2 separate regions of the Homo sapiens genome follow, and region 2 is linked to region 1. The links come from fine-mapping of genetic effects on gene expression. A gene starts in region 1. The other region holds a variant in brackets. All regions are shown on one strand. Distances are from middle to middle. Region 1 holds the start of SLC4A7 (solute carrier family 4 member 7). Region 2 has its middle 100 kb from the start of SLC4A7.

The links. PIP is the estimated chance that this variant, and not a neighbour inherited with it, causes the effect.
Region 2: its variant is the best candidate, but not a certain one, in a credible set for the expression of SLC4A7 in whole blood (TOPMed, PIP 0.84).

What each region holds. Positions count from the first base shown.
Region 1 is chr3:27,480,121-27,488,800 of GRCh38, reverse strand. It overlaps SLC4A7 (solute carrier family 4 member 7), which reads left to right and starts at 4,417. Exons shown (of 26, transcript NM_001321103.2): 1 at 4,417-4,734. The coding sequence starts at 4,675. It also overlaps the pseudogene UBA52P4. RefSeq lists enhancers at 3,759-3,888, 4,367-5,143, 5,159-5,218, 5,249-5,458, 5,619-5,678 and silencers at 4,019-4,498, 4,529-4,888, 4,919-4,988.
Region 2 is chr3:27,584,394-27,593,073 of GRCh38, reverse strand. No RefSeq gene overlaps it. Among named protein-coding and RNA genes, the nearest start is that of SLC4A7, 100 kb to the right of the region's middle. The variant C/T (reference allele first, on the strand shown) is at 3,375.

The DNA of each region.
Region 1 (8,680 bases):
AACCAAGAAGAGGCAATGAAGATACATATAATTGCCAAAGAACCCTCTGCTAAAAGTTAAGAATGGTTTCACGTGGCCAGGTGCGGTGGCTCACACCTGTAATCCCAGCACTTTGGGAGGCTGAGGTGGGCAGATCACCTGATGTTGTCAGGAGTTTGAGACCAGCCTGACCAACATGGAGAAACCCCGTCTCTACTAAAAAATACAAAATTAGCCAGGCATGGTGGTACGTGCCTGTAATCCTAGCTACTTGGGAGGTTGAGGCAGGAGGATTGCTTGAACCAGGGAGGCAGAGGTTGCAGTGAGCCGAGATTGCACCATTGCACTCCAGCCTGGACAGCAAGAGTGAAACTCCGCCTCAAAAAAAAAAAAAAAAGAATGGTTTCACACTTTTCAAAATACCAAAGAAGCTGCTCTCTGTCTTTATAAACTATACCTTGGCCTATAGAGAATTGTTCTTGGGAAGACCGTTCACTCCTCAGGATGGGGATCTTGCCAAGGGGTTTTTAGGATTATCTACTGCTCCAGATACTCAGGAAGTATTCTGAATTTAGGATACAGCTAAAACTCATTAACTTTAGGTACTACCACTTCATTGCTACTGATGAATTTAGGTTTACATTTACCTTTGTTTAGCAAATGTTTCCCTGTGCCATATTTCAAATTAATTTTTTTTTTTTGAAACGGAGTCTGGACCTGTGCCCCAGGCTGGGGTGCAATGGCGTGATCTTGGCTCACTGCAACCTTGGCCTCCGGGGTTCAAACAATTCTCCTGTCTCAGCCTCCTGAGTAGCTGTGACTATAGGTGCCTGCCACCATGCCCAGCTAATTTTTGTATTTTTAGTAGATATAGGGTTTCACCGTGTTGGCCAGGCTGGTCTCAAACTCCTGACCTCAGGTGATCCACTTGCCTTGGCCTCCCAAAGTGTTGGGATTACAAGCATGAGCCACTGCACCTGGCCCCAGATGAATATTTAAAATATTCAAGAATACAATTTACCTTTCAGCACCTTGGAACACTTTATAGCCATCTCTGGTTGCACAAAAGCAATTTTAACACATTATCTTCTTGAATGAACTTTGGCTGAGGTTGAATTAAGTGGGCAACTGAGTGATAAATTTAATAATTCAGATCTTTGCTACATTCCTCTTCTAGCAGTTGGGATGAAATGAGGAGTGGAAAAAGTGCATGGCAACAAAGACGTCACTAAAAAAATATTTGTGGATTAAATAAACCAATAATTTTTTCTTCTTGCAAGATAGATGAACAGAAATTCATTGTTTAGCAAGGTCTGCCAAGCATACATTTTTAAGACCTTCTTGAAGCTGACTATTTAACACTTTCAACTCTGGCACCATGATTCTTGACTCCTACTTTGTTCTTGTTACTATGGCCACATGCTCAGCTGTCACCTAAGATGCTCTTAGATCTTAAGAAGAGCAGATGTATGCCCCACCTGTACATTTACTCATTTAACACATGTGCTGAGAGTTTACAGGGGCCAAACACTCACGTAGGCATAGGGATATCTGAGAAAAAACCAAAAACCAAAAACCAAATTTGCTGTACACATGAAGCTTACATGGAGCTCACATTTGTGCGTGTGTGTGTGTGTGTGTGTGTGTAGACAATAAGCATAATAAATCATAAAATATATAGAATGTTATAGCCAGATGCGGTGGCTCACACCTGTAATCTCAGCACTTTGGGAGGCCGAGGCAGGTGGATCACTGGAGGTCAGGAGTTCTAGACCAGCCTGGCCAACATGGTGAAACCCCATCTCTACTAAAAATACAAAAAATTAGCTAGGTGTGGTGGCGGGCGCCTGTAATCCCAGCTACTCTGGAGGCTGAGGCAGGAGAATTGCTTGAACCTGGAGGATGGAGGTTGCAGTGAGCCGAGATTGTGCCACTGTACTCCAGCCTGGGCAACAGAGTGAGACTCCATCTCAAAAATAAATAAATAAAAAAGAATGGTGCCAATAGTAAGAGCAGTTCCACTCACCAGAACTCAAAACCAGTATTTCTATGGGCTTCAGCTTCCTCATCTGTAAAATGGAGCTATAACATATTTTGTAGTATTGTTTTTTTGTTTGTTTGTTTTTGCTGCTCCAGTCAACGAAAGAGACACACTTTATTGAGGCTCCAGGGAGGCTGCCGTTCGAGGAAGGAAGAGCCTTGACCTTCTTGGGTTACAGGTTGTTGGTGTGGTCACACCTCTTGCAGCAGTTGACAGCACGGGGGTGCAGGCAAGCATAGCACTTGCGGCAGATCATCTTGTCACAGTTGTATTTCTGGGAGAGCTGGCAGAGGGAAGGCTCAATAATGCCACCTTACAGGCGCAGCACCAGGTGCAGGGTGGACTCTTTCCAGATGTTGCAGTCTGAGAGAGTTCGGCCATCCTCCAGCTGTTTGCCAGCAAGTATCAGATGCTGCTGGTCAGGTGGGATACCTCCTTGTCTTGAATTTTGGCTTTGACATTCTCAATGGTGTCACTTGGCTTGACGTCAAGAGTGATGGTCTTGCCCGTGAGGGTCTTCACAAAGATCTGCGTCTCTGCGTCTGCAGCTCAGTTGCCTTGCCGAAGAAAAAGATGACGGCAGATATTTTGCAGTATTGAGAGGATTAGAAATGAAATATGTTTGCCAAATGTCACAGTCTCTAATTGTAGGCCTCTTTACATAGTAGCTATTAATAGAGGCACATCTGCTCTTGTACAAGTAAGTGAACAATGTGTGCTGGACTGGAAGTAACTCTCTGGGAAATTTAGGACAAAAGGGGACTAGGGCCCAAAGAAGGAATGAGTCATCCAGCATACCTAGCTACCTATTGCTGACAAAAAGCTTTACTAATACCCAGTTGGAGATGAATAGGATGTGAGCTCTGGATCCGCTGATGTATTTATATATCCTTCCATTGCATGGCTTCAGTTCTTCCCAACTAAACCTCTCCTTATCTTTTTTTATTTTATTTTTTATTTTTTTGAGACAGGGTCTAGCTCTGTCACCCAGGCTGGAGTGCAGTGGCGTGATCTCAGCTCACTGCAACCTCTGCCTCCTGGGTTCAAGCGATTCTCCTGCCTCAGCCTCCTGAGTAGCTGGGATTACAGGTGCCTGCCACCATGCCTGGCTAATTTTTGTATTTTTAGTAGACACGGGGTTTCGTCATGTTGGTCAGGCTGGTCTCGAACTCCTGATCTCAGGTGATCCGCCCGCCTCGGCCTCCCAAACTGCTGTAATTACAGGCGTAAGCCACCGCGCCCGGCCAAATTTCTCATCTTTATGAAACACTCAAGAGAAACCTGTTAACAATAATGAAAATTATCAGCATGCTATGTGCCAGGCACTTTTATGAATATAAATCCCCTTAATCCTTCAATGAGCCTGCATGGCAGGTATTACAATCATCCCGTTACAGAAGGGATATTTGAGAGACGGCCTACAGGGTGGACTCAATAATGTGGCAGCTGGCCGGGTGTGGTGGCTCATGCCTGTAATCCCAGCACTTTGGGAGGCTGAGGCTGGTGGATCACCTTAGCTCAGGAGTTCGAGACCAGCCTAACCAACATGGTGAAACCCCGTCTCTACTAAAAATACAAAAAGTTGCCGGGCGTGGTGGCGCGCGTCTGTAGTCCCAGCTACTCAGGAGGCTGAGGCAGGAGAATAGCTTGAACCCAGGCAGCGGAGGTTGCAGTGAGCCGAGATCATGCCATTGCACTCCAACCTGGGCTGGTGCAAGACTCTGTCTCAAAAAAAAAAAAAAAAAAAAAAAAAGTGGCAGCTGTCGTGGTGCTCAGTGGGCGAGCAAGCACAGGAGGACACCTGGTCAAGTGTACCCCATCTTTCACGGTCCCTGAGTTGGGGTTCGTGCCTACTGGATTGACAGAAAAGAAACTTCCAGGAGTCGTGAAGACTCGTTAGTTGCTTCGGAGGGTTATCCTGGGCGTCCTTGACAGAGGTGGCGTCCTCCTTCCCTGCAGCCTCTAAAGAATGTAGTTAGGAGCCAAGGGAGGTGGTGACCCCCCACCCCATTGAGAACGTCAGGGGAGCTTCCGACTTGAAAAACTAGTTAGACGCTCAGCTTCGGTCAATTAAGCTTATACAAAGAGGGGCGGTGCGTCCTGAGGAGGTGGCACGGGGGAGGCGAGCGGAAGTCCGCCAGCCGCCGATTGGCTGGGACAAATGTCCGTCCCGCCTCCCTCCCGCCCCATCTCCCGGTGGCCTAGCGGCGCGGCCCGCGGGCGCGCTGAGGAGGCTGGCGGTGCCAGACTGGCAGGGGGCGTGACCCGAGGAGGCGGGGCGGGGGGGCGTGTCTTGCCTGGCCCCGGCGCCGGGCTCGTCACGGTTTGCGGCTCCGCCCCCGAACCCCTCCTCCTACGCGGCTCTCCTCCTTCCCGCTCGGTCCGCCGGTTCGCTCAGTTCTAGCTTCAGGTTCCACGCCGCGGCCTCGCTCTCCTACTAAAGCCAGCCCAGCAGTCGCAGCGCGCACACGCACGCCCCGCGTCTCCCGCGCCCGGCGCCCGGCTCTCCCCACGCGCGCACACCTCGCGCACGGACGCACCCACGTTTGTCCTCGCGCGCCGGGGGCTCGGCGGCGGCGGCAGGGGCAGCGGCAGAAGCAGGCAGACCGCGCGGGGCAGTACCGTAGCGGCCGTCACGGGCTGGCCGGCCGGCCATGGAGGCTGATGGGGCCGGCGAGCAGATGAGACCGCTACTCACCCGGGTAACGAGCAGGGTGAGGGCGCCGCGGCGGTGGGGCTCCTCCGCAGGGGGAGGGCGCGGGGCGAGGCAGACAAAGGCGGGGGGCGCGGCGGGCGTCGCGGCTCGGCCACCTCGTCCCAGGCCCGTCGCCCCTCCACCTCCCGGCGGCCGGCGCGCCTCGCCATCCCCTTTGTGTGGCGGCCTGGGGCGCGGGTGGGAGGGGGCCAGCGGCTGCGCTCGGGAGGCCCGAGTCGGGGCGGCCGGCGGCGCGCCGCGGGCATCCTCTGCGCGGCTCAGGCGGGACCCCGACATCCCCGCAGAGGCCGCCTGTGACCCCGACCATCCATCCCTTCCCTCAGCGCTCGCCTCCCCTGTTTCTTAGCGCGCTCCCCAGGCGGGGTCCCGGTTCCGGTTGCCTTGGCGCAGGAGTTTCAGATTAGCCCTCGAAAACCTATCTTTCTTCTCCTTCTAAGGAGGACGGCGGCTCCACCTGTCTCTAGCCCCAGGCAGTGGTGAAGAGCTGGTTGAATCTTTCCCCCTCTTTCCGAGTGTCCCCTCCCGCTCCGCGGTGCGCTTTGTTCGGTGAGTTCTCCGGCCGCGTGGACTGGCCGCGCTCCTTCCCGGCCAAGGCTCTTTCGCTGTTGCCTGCCGGGTCCGCCTTCTCCACTGGCTGGGACCCGGGGAGTATCCTCCTGCCGCAGGCCAAGTAGAAGGAGGAGGGTGTCCTGAGCTGTCTGGTGCTCCTTCTCTAACTCAGCTAGCAAGATCGCGTTTCCTACTGAGACTGGCTTTGATTTCAGGGTTAGAAGAGAATGGGGATGGACTTAAGGCCGGTGTTCCCATTTGTGATGATGGGTGAACGGCCCATGCTCAAGAAGCGGACTTCCTGCTTTCTTTAGAGCACATGCGTCCCCGCAGTTGTCTCTTTCTCCTTTCCAAGTTCGTGACTCAAAGGAGATGGAAGTATTCTAAATTTTCCTACTTCTAATTTTTACTATGCAACCAGCAAAGGCGGGAAGGTTGCAGGGAAAATTGTCCGGTCTTTCACAACTAAGAGGAAAATTACTTCTCCTATGTTTTTATTCAAGAGTTGTCTTTAAAACTGCCTGCCGGCTTTCCCTTTTAACTTTTAGGATTATAGTTAAGGTTATGGAAAGTAGTCATTCATTAGTTCAGTACGTTCATATAAGTTCTCTAACATAGAAGAAAACTCAGTCACCAGACAGTGAAGTCATTTAGCAGTGGTTATTGGAAGATAATTCACAGTGATGGTAATGGAATACTGGAAACTCATCCTAAATAATCTGTAATTATTATTATTATTATTTTGAGACAGAGTCTCGCTCTGTCGCCCAGGCTGGAATGCAGTGGTGCGATCTCGGCTCACTGCAACCTCCTCCTCCCAGGTTCAACCGATTCTCCCGCCTCAGCCTCCGGAGTAGCAGGAATTACAGGCACGCACCACTATGCCCAGCTAATTTTTTGTATTTTTAGTAGAGACGGGGTTTTGCCATGTTGTCCAGGCTGGTCTGGAACTCCTGACCTCAGGCAATCCACCCGCCTCGGCCTCCCAAAGTGCTAGGATTACAGGCGTGAGCCACCGCGCCTGGCCTTCTGTAATTCTTTGTGTAGCCTTTGAATAAACTGTTTTATAGTACTTTCTCTGTGTATTTCAAGTATGATGTTGTCTGTTCTTAAATTTATTTGCAAATTTTCAATTGAGCAGTAAAGTGCATTCGAGTTTTCACGGAGCTGGATAGAAACTATGGTGTGTTCTCAAATATTGCCTGCCTAGCTAGTAGAGAAAGCATGTGATAAGGCCATTGCCCTCCAAGTTATTCATTCATTCATTGTAATAACACTTATTTAGACTAGTGTTTATGCTATTTAAACTATTATTTACACTATTTACTGTAGTGGCCAACAAGGCAGAACCAACTCCATCCTAATATTTATTTATTTATTTTTGAGACGGAGTTTCGCTCTGTCACCCAGGCTGGAGCGCAATGGCCTGATCTCGCCTCACTGCAACCTCTGCCTCCTGGGTTCAAGTGATTCTTCGGCCTCAGCCTCCCGAGTAGCTGGGATTACAGGCATGTGCCACCATACTCGGCTAATTTTGTATTTTTAGTAGAGATGGGATTTCACTGTTGGTTAGGCTGGTCTCGAACTCCTGACCTCAGGTGATCCACCCACCTCGGCCTCACAGAGTGCTGGGATTACAGGTGTAAGCCATGGCACCCTACCCAACTCTATCCTAATAGAAGTGATATTTGAGTTGGGAGACAGATGACAAAGGAATTATTAAACACTGCTGTTAATGACGTGGTAGGGGAGCACTTTAGAAGGGTAAACCTCCTAAGTCTTTGAGAAGATAAGGCTTGGCTACTGTTAACATATATAAATCAATAATAGAAATCAAATACAGTAAACTAGCATATAGTCTACGAATAGAATGGGAGAATAGTAAAGCTGTAGGTTGAACTGATTTGAAAACAGGAAAGAGGAACTATTGGCGTTGATAAAATTAAATCTTCGCTCACCCAGTTTTGGTAAATAAAAGTCGTAAAAGTGAGAGATCATGATATTCATCAGTCATAACTCTAACTCGCAGCAGACTGCTCAGCATAGCCAAAAAAGTAGAACAAATTAATATTCATAAAATCCCATCTTAGATTTGTAATTATGCAAAAAAATGTTGAATAGATTGGTGGCAGTTTATATTACTCTGAAATTGGAGCCCATCTGTTTCATAGTTTAGCCTCTATGGTTGCTTCTGCTCCTAAAATTCTCTAATTTTCACTGATCAGGGTGTTGGGATAGAGGAAAGTCATTAATCTTGAAAAAATGTAACTTGTCTTTTGCTTTTGCTATAAAGCCTCATAATTGTAAGCCTCACTTGGAATTGATTTGTGAGTCTTTTTTTGTTGTTGTTGTCAGTCTTATTTTCCAGTATAGGTTAAATCCTTTTATAAATAGCATGGTTTAGAAGGTTTCTAAGTTTTAGCAGGTAATCTACTTTCTTTTAAGCAGTGCATGATATAACACAATTCTGATACCACTGACATTTTGGGACCATGATATTTTTCCATGATTTTGTTATGATTTTATTCATTTTGCACATATTTATTAAATATCCTATAGGTGCCAGGTAATGGGGATATAGTCAAACAAGGTAGACAGCATACTGCCTTCGCTGAGTTTATTTTGGCGTATGGTGTGAACACAGTGATGGCATTTACATTTCTGCTTTCCATTTGTGAGTGCCAGTTAAAACATTTCATCAGTCTGTAAGAAATTAAAAAAAAATAGTCATTAGAATAAATGACAGACCCGGACAACCCAGTATGAATTCGGTAGTGATTGGCAAATGGAAGTTTTTTTTTGTGGGTCTGTAAGTAGGCATTCTGTTTGGGGAATCACAGTTACGTATTGATACTAGGTATTGATGTGGCACCCTAGGAATAGTATCAGGGTTTCAGTTACCCTTTTGCCTTATTCTAAGTATCTCTGGGCCGCAATCCATGGAGTTGTAATAAAGGGAGAGAGCAAATCTGAAACTGTAGGACAAGGCTAGGTGCTGTGGCTTATGCCTGTAACCCCTGTACTTTGGGAGGCTGAAGTGGGAGGATCACTTGAGCCTAGGGGGTTTGAGACCAGCCTGGGCAACATAATGGGACCCTGTCTCTACAAAACATAATTACCCATATGTGTTGGTGCTAGCCTGTAGTCCCAGCTACTTGGGAGGCCGAGGCAGGAGGATCACTTGAGCCTGGGAGGTTGAGGCTGCAGTGAGCTGTGATTATGCCATTGCACTGCAGCCTGGGTGACAGAGTGAAGCCCTGCCTCAATACAAGATGAAACAAAGCTGTAGGACATTTGAGTTAGATTGATGAATTGTTTTGCCTGGTAATTGAGACTGGGAAGTACACAGGTTTTCTTCTAAGAGCTTAGAGAATTTTGTTACATTAGACTCTTGT
Region 2 (8,680 bases), 100 kb before region 1:
TTTTTTATATATATAAACACACACACACATACAATTTTGCATAGCCCAATGAAAAGCCTAGAATAGCTACTTCTTTTGAGCCACAAAGATGTTGGGGGAAATATAAATGTTTCTACTGATTCAAGTATTTCATTATTTCTTTTTTTTTTTTTTTTTTTTTTTGAGGTGGAGTCTTGCTCTTGTTGCCCAGGCTGGAGTGCAATTGCACAATCTCAGCTCACTGCAACCTCCGCCTACTAGGTTCAAGCAATTCTCCTGCCTCAGCCTCCCAAGTAGCTGAGATTACAGGCATTCACCACCATGCCTGGCTAATTTTTGTATTTTTATTAGAGATGGGGTTTCACCATGTTGTCCAGGCTGGTCTTGAACTCCTGACCTCGTGATCTGCCTGCCTCGGCCTCCCAAAGTGCTGGGATTGCAGGCGTGAGCCACTGTGCCTGGCTCTTTTTTATTTTCTTATTTTCTTTTGAGACAGAATTTCACTCTTGTCACCTAGGCTGGAGTACAATGGCGTGATCTCAGCTCTCTGCAACCTCTGCCTCCCAGGGTTCAAGTGATTCTTCTTCCTCAGCATCTCAAGTAGCTGGGATTACAGGCGTGCACCACCATGCCCAGCTAAATTTTTTTTGTATTTTTAGTAGAGATGGGGTTTCGCCATGTTGGCCAGGTTAGTCTCAAACTCCTGACCTCAAGTGATTTGCCCACCTTGGCCTCCAAAAGTGCTGGGATTACAGGTGTGAGCCACCACGCCCAGCCAGGTGTGGATTTTCAAAAACAGCAAAATCTGTGGGAATCTAGTATTTCTCTCTAGATGAAGTAATGTCATTGAATATAATTTAAGTTGTAGTGTAATTAAAGATGGTATAAATGGCTCTATTCTTCCCATGCTGACATTTTATCCCAAGCCCTTTCTTCGGGCATCATTGGTCAATGATTTATGGGTTTTCCATGGCTTCCATATCTTGTCTATCACCAACTGGTTTCTGAGACATGAGTGGTTTACCCCGGAAGTGATTATTCAAATTCTGTGGCTGCTGGGCTTTGTTCTTACATCTAATGTATTCAGCTAGATTCTGCTCCAGGAAGAGATAACAAAAATTACTGAAACAATTTGTAAGATGCAGCCAGCTGCATATTGACCTTCAACTCCCACGAGTGTCCCTGCCAAAATGATACAGTTACTTAATTTCCAGAGTCAAAATTATCAATAAAGCCCAAAGGCTTTCTCTCAATAGACAATGGGTATGTGTTTCGGTGTTTGGGTGTGGATGTGTGTTTGTGTGTCACAAAGAGAGAGACTTTCACTCAAAAGACAAGGTATGTGTGCATGAGTACATGTGTATTAGAGAAAGAAAGAGAGAAAGAGAGCAATGAAGACAGAGCACAGCTTTGTTAGAATGGTGAGGGGAGACCCAATGTTAGTTTGCTTCCAGGACTTGATGGAGATTATTGGTTTTTCTTTGAAAGCCCATTCCTCAGCCTAGGTAAAAGCTTTTCCTAGTAGACCGTGATTCATTAACATCCTGTCCTTCTGGGGAGGAAAAGACACGAAAATTTAAGGCAAGATTCCAGGCTGGAAAAGAGCTGTTGTTGAGACAAAGCTTTGATGGAAGGTGAAAGCAGGCCTGGAACCATGTGTGTCATAGTGATTATTTTTTATGGCTCAACGTCAAAATGCCTCTGCTACTTGTTAGTTTGGGGTTTGGTGGGACAGAAAAGAGGAAGGCTATGAGGAGAGTAAGGAACAAAGAGGGAGAGTTTGCAGAAAAATTTTTAGAGCAATTGAAGCTTGATAATACTGGATGTGTCCTGCCTTTTCTGTTGTTGCTTTCATTTGTTGAAGCATTTCATAAGTAGATCACATGTTCACAATAGAAAAGTGAATCTATTATGCAAAATGTCCCAGTTGGAAACTCGTAAGTTCTGAAGGGAAAATACTCTTTTTCAGCTTAATTCCCACTGGCAAAATTTCATACAAACAGACTGCTGTGTGACTGTTTGGAACTGTTGACTAAACCAAGCTCTAAGGGAAATGAAAGTATCCTTTCGTCTGTGCACAACCACTTCTTTATTTTTCCCTTTGCCATTTACCAACTTAATGCATCTGTGTTGACAGCTAAAGACTGATGATTAAATTAGACAACAGTTCCTATTACATTTTAAGATTATGTTAAACACTTGAACATATTGCAATTCTCTAAGGCTGAAATGACTCCTGTAATCTTTCATCAAGATTTATAATCACTATTTCCTTCACTGACAGTATCAAAAAGCTACAGTGGTCAGGGAATGTTCCAGCCACATTGGCAAGAGGATATGATTATATTCTCCAGTGGAAGTTGTAACTTCCGGTTGCCTTTTTCCCTGTGAAAACAATGATTTCCGGTTACCTTCAAGGGTACTGTGACTTTATGACACATCACTTCAGAAAACCAGCTCTGTGGTTGTTGAAGGTGACCCAGGAGAGATGATGAATTTCTCTTTCTTTGGAAATCAGATTTTTCTCTCCTCGAAGACAGAAGAGGAAGTAACATTCTAGGCCAGCACCCATTATTGTGCAAGAAGACTTGGATTTTATCAAAAGTGATGATTAATTGAATTTACATCTCTCAGCATGCACCTCCCACTCCAGGACTGATTTTTGTTTTTCTTTACAGAAAATTTATTTCTCCTTCTTCAACCTTGCATTGTGCATATAGCCATTGAAAACAAAACAGTCACCAGTGTTTTCCATGAAGGCTTTTGCTGAAAAAGAAATCAGCCTCTTCACACTTTTATGTTATCAACAGAGAAGAAAAGAGATGAGAAAGCCAGAAAGATGAATAGCATTCCTATCTTTCTCATTCTTGCTTTTCTTCTCCTGTTAGTGTTCATTCTTTGGCTCTTCTGTTTTTACTTTTTGCTGCATTTATATCTTCTTTTTTGTTTTCTATCCCTTTACTTTGCTTTCCCTTCCCAACCCACACACCTCCTTTGCTCAGGAGGAAATCTCCTCTCCTGGGAGGAGCAAAGAGATAGAATAGAGAAAAAGCATGCAGTAACAGCAATGGAATTCTAATGTTCTCACTCATATGTGGGAGCTAAAAAGTTGAGCTCACAGAAATAGAGTAGAATTGTGGTTACTATGGGCTAGGAAGGGTGGGGGATGGGAGATAGAGATTGGATACGGAATACAAAAGGACAGATAGATAGGAAGAGTAAGCTCTAGTGCTCTATAGAACTATAGGGTGACAATAGTTAACAATAACTTATTGTATATTTTCAAATAGCTAAAAGAGAAGATTTTGCATGTTTCTCTTTTTTTGACATAGAGCTTCGTTCTGTCGCTGGGATTACCAGCATGAGGTATGGCACCCTGTGGATTTTGAATGTTT[C/T]CAAAACAAAGAAATGATAAATGTTTTGAAGTAATAGATACACTAATGAACCTGATTTAATCATTACACATTGTATACAGATATCAAAATGTCACGTCGTACCTATAAATATGTACATTATTCCATGTTAATTAAAAATAAAATAAAGCCAGGCACAGCGACTCATGCCTGTAATCCCAGAACTTTGGGAGGCCGAGGCGGGCGGATCACTTAAGGTCAGGAGTTTGAGACAGGCCTGGCTAACATGGCAAAGCTCTATCTCTACTCAAAATACAAAAATTAGCTGGACTTGGTGGTGGTATGCACCTGTAGTCCCAGCTACTAGGGAGGCTGAGGTGGGAGGATCAGTTTAGCCCAGGAGGAAGAAGTTGCAGTGAGCCGAGATCGAGCCACTACACTCCAGCCTGTGTGACAAAGTGAGACTCTGTCTCAAAAAAATAAAATAAAATAAAGCATTTTGCCCACTTACAAAAATGGATTGTTTTAATCCAAATTATGTATTCTGAGTATAAATGTGTATTCTAGATATAAATATATCTAGATATAAATCTTTTATCAGATTACCCTTTCTTCCATTCTATGGGTTATATTTTCTTTTCTTTTTTTTTTTTTTCCACCCAGGCTGGAGTGCAGTGGCCCAATCTCAGCTCACTGCAACCTCTGCCTCCCAGGTTCAGGTGATTCTCCTGCCTCAGCCTCCCGAGTAGCTGGGATGGCAGCCACCCGCCAACACTCCTGGCCAATTTTTGTATCTTTAGTAGAGACGGCATTTCACCATGTTGGCCGGGCTGGTCTTGAACTCCTGACCTCAAGTGGTCTGCCTGCCTCGGCCTCCCAAAGTGCTGGGATTACAGGTGTGAGCCACCATGCCTGGCTGATTTTCTTTATTTTAAGAGTGTCTTTCAAAAAGGAGAAGTTTACCGGTGTGGCAGCTCACATCTGTAATCCCAGCACTTTGGGAGGCCAAGGCACGCAGATCACCTGAGGCCAGGAGTTTGAGACCTGCCTGGCCAATATGGTGAAACCCCATCTCTACTAAAAATACAAAAATTAGCTGGGCGTGATGGCGCACGTCTGTAATCCCAGCTATTCGGGAGGCTGTGGCAGAAGAATCACTTGAGCCTGGGAGGCAGAACCTGCAGTGAGCAGAGATTGTGCCATTGCACTCCAGCCTGGGTGACAGAGCGAGACTCTGTCTCAAAAAAAAAAAAAAGGAGTTTATAATTTTCATTAAGTCTATTTAATCTGTTTGTTCTTTGAGGAATTATGCTTTTTAGTATTGTATAATATCTAATAAATTTCTGCTTAACCCAAGATCACAAAGATTTTCTACCATATTTTCTTTTAGAAGATTAATCACTTTAGATAATATATTTAAGTCTGTAATAATTGTTTTTTTTTTTTTTGAGACAAAGTCTCGCTCTGTTGCCCATGCTGGAGTACAGTGGCACAATCTCAGCTCACTGCAACTTTCGCCTCCCGGGTTCAAGTGATTGTCCTGCCTCAGCCTCCCAAGTAGCTAGGATGATAGGTGCCCACCACCACGCCTGGCTATTATTTTTTTTTTTTTTTTGTAGAGATGGAGTTTCACCATGTTGGCCAGGCTGGGATAATACATATTTAGATCATTATTTTCATATGGTGCAAGAATGGATTGACATTCTTTCTGTTGCGTATGAATTTCTAATTGTTCTAGCACCATTTGTTAAAAAGACTATTTGTCCACTGAATTGCATTTGTGCCTTTGTCAAAAACAGTTGTCAGGACTGGGCGTGGTGGCTTATGCCTGTAATCCCAGCATTTTGGGAGGCCGAGGCAGGCGGATCACCTGAGGTCAGGAGTTCAAGACCAACCTGGCCAACATGATGAAACCCCGTCTCTACCAAAAATACAAAAAATTAGCCAGGCGTGGTGGCTCACGCCTGTAAACTCAGCTACTCTGGAGGCTGAGGCAGGAGAATCGCTTCAACCTCAGAGGCAGAGGTTGCAGTGAGCTGAGATTACACCACTGGACTACAGCCTGGGTAACAAAGCAAGACTTCATCTCAAAACAAAACAAAACAAAAATAAACAAACAGTTATCAGGCCAGGAGCAGTGGTTCATGTCTGTAATCCTAGCTTTTGGGGGGCTAAGGTGGGTGGATTACTGGAGCCCAGGAGTTAGAGACCCCCTGGTCAACATGGTGAAAACCCATCTCTACAAAAATACAAAAAAAAAAAAAAAATAGCTGGACATGGTGGCATGTGCCTGTAGCCCCACCTGCACAGGAGGCTGAGGTGGGAGGATTGCTTTGAGCCTAGACAGTTAAGGCTGCAGTGAGCCATGTACACACCACTGCACTCTATCCAGGGTTCTCAAAAAACAAACAAAAAAACTAAACAAATAAAAACTAGTTGTCAATATAAATATGTGGGTCTCTTTCTGGATTCATTTCTATTTCATTGACTTGTCTGTTTTTTGGTTTTGGGGGGTATTTTTGTTTTGTTTTGTTTTGTTTTGTTTTGTTTTGCTTTTTTTGAGACGAAGTCTTACTCTGTCGCCCAGGCTGGAGTACAGTGGTGCAATCTCGGCTCACTGTAACCTCCGCCTCCCAGGTTCAAGTGATTCTCCTGCCTCAGCCTCCTTAGTAGCTGGCATTACAGGTACACACCACCACATGGCTAATTTTTGTATTTTTAGTAGAAATGGGGTTTCACTATGTTGGCCAGGTTGGTCTCGATCTCCTGACCTCGTGATCCACCCTCCTCGGCCTCCCAAAGTGCTGGGATTAGAGGCGTAAGCCACCACGCCAGGCCAACTTGTCTGCTTTTTTATACCATTAACACATTGTCCTGCTTACTAGAGCTTTATAATGAATATTAAAATCAGGAAAAAAAAAAAAAAAAGAACAGAACAACGAGGCAATGTCCTGGTGGTTCAGTTGGGCTGATTTGCACTATCTTAAACATATATCCAGAATTTGATGGCTTACTACTCACACTGCTACTGTTGTAGTTTAAACAACAGGAATTTGAGTCCAATCTCTCTCCCCTACTGCAACACCCTGTTGCACTGGTCCCCACATCTACAAAAAAAGAAAAAAGAAAAAAACAACTAAAAAAAAAATAAAAATAAACCACTACCATCCTGGCACGGTGGCTCACGCCTGTAATCCCAGCACTTTGGGAGGCCGAGGCGGGCAGATCACCTGAGGTCAGGAGGTCGAGACCAGCCTGGCCAACATGATAAGACCCAGTCTCTACTAAAAATGTGTGGTGGTGGGCACCTGTAATCCCAGCTACTTGGGAGGCCGAGGCAGGAGAATCACTTGAACCCAGGAGGCGGAGGTTCCATTGAGCTATCATGCCACAGTACTCCAGCCTGGATGACAGAGCAAGACACTATCTCAAAAAAAAAAAAAAAAAAAAAGGCTGGGCACAGTGGCTCACGCCTGTAATCCCAGCACTTTGGGAGGCTGAGGCGGGCAGATCACGAGGTCAGGGGTTCAAGACCAGCCTGATCAACATGGTGAAACCCCGTCTCTACTAAAAATACAAAAATTAGCTGGACATGGTGGCACGTGCCTATAATCTCAGCTACTCAGGAGGCTGAGGCAGGAGAATCACTTGAACCCAGGAGGCAGAGGCTGCAGTGAGCCGAGATCACACCACTGCACTCCAGCCTGGGCAACAGAGCGAGACTCCATCTCAAAAAAAAAAAAAAAAAAAAAGATTTATGTCTGTCTACCAGACTGAAATGTAGAATATAGGGATTTGTCTCTATCCCCAACATCTAAAACAGTGCCTAGCACATTTGGCACTATATGTGGGCTGAGTAAATGAAATTCATAACACCAGCACTATATGTAGCCTTTGGCCACACTCTCTTCCTGGGACATTTGTGTGTTATAAGGCCACACATCCTATGGTAGAAAGCCATATTGGAATGCTGATGACTTGACCAGGAGCCAGTTACTTTCTCCTCAGTGACAGATCTATAAGCCTGCAAATCCGGCTGCTTTCTTTTCCTTAGCTTACTGGTTAGAAAGAGCCTGTTCAGTCACGTACTTGGCTTACACATTTTCCAACCAGAACAGTGTGCACTTGCCCTTTTCCTGAGTTCTAGTGCCAGGGACTGTACCTGCTGGTTGCATTTTGAGTTCTTATTCATAGTCATGATTCTGCCCCACCTAAGTACTTTTATGCCCGGGCAGTCTTGGGACTTGCAGGTCACTCCCTTGGCTTCTTTCAAACTGGTCAAGTGGAGGAGGAAAGCTATAGCCTTTCCCAACATGACTTAGTGGACTAACCCATCATTGCTCAGACCTTCACAGAATCTTAGAGTATTAGAGTGGGGAAGACTTAAATCTTGGAGTACACTGATATTCAATTTTTTTTTTTTTAAACCGCAGCAATACCTTTTCTTTAAACCAGCACTCTACTGAAAGCCCAACATGTCGAACAAATGGAATTGGAGCTTCTCTGTTTGAAACAGAGACAGGGACCAGAGTCTGCTTGGTTTGACGCAGCCTCTTCCTAGGGGATTCCCTGAGGAAATTTGCAAAGCCAATTGTTTTTACAGGAAACAGTGTGGAGATCCCAGGTGCCATCCAATGCCATTGCTTTGTAGATAAGAAAAGCAAAGTTCAAAGGGATAAAGGTATTTTCCCAAAGTTATACAGAAAGCAGCTGTCCTGGAATGAGAATTCCAGTCTCTTACTTCCCAGTTTGTACCCCTCTCCTCACCATATACACCATGTTCTGCCAGCAGCCTACCACCCATTAAGAACTTACTGCATGCCAAGCATCATGCAAGGTGTTTTACATTCACAATTTCATTTATTCCTGACATCTACCTTTTGTGGTACATACCATTAATTTTGTTTTTCAAAAGAGAGACGAGGCTGGGCATGGTGGCTCATGTCTGTAATTCCAGCACTTTGGAGGCCAAGGTGGACGAATCACCTGAGGTCAGGAGTTCAAGACCAGCCTAACCAACATGGTGAAACCACATCTCTACTAAAAATACAAAAATTAGCCGGGCATGGTGGCACGTGCCTGTAATCCCAGCTACTCGGGAGGCTGTGGCAGGAGAATTGCTTGAACCCAGGAGGCAGAGGTTGCAGTGAGCTGAGATCCCGCCACTGTACTCCAGCCTAGGTGACAAAAGTGAAACTCCATCTCAAAAAAGAAAAAAAAGAGAGAGAGAGAGAGACTAGGCCTGGCGCGGTAGATCATGCCTGTAATCCCAGCTACTCGGGAGGCTGAGGCAGGAGAATCACTTGAACCCAAGAGGCAGAGGTTGCAGTGAGCTGAGATCCAGCCAC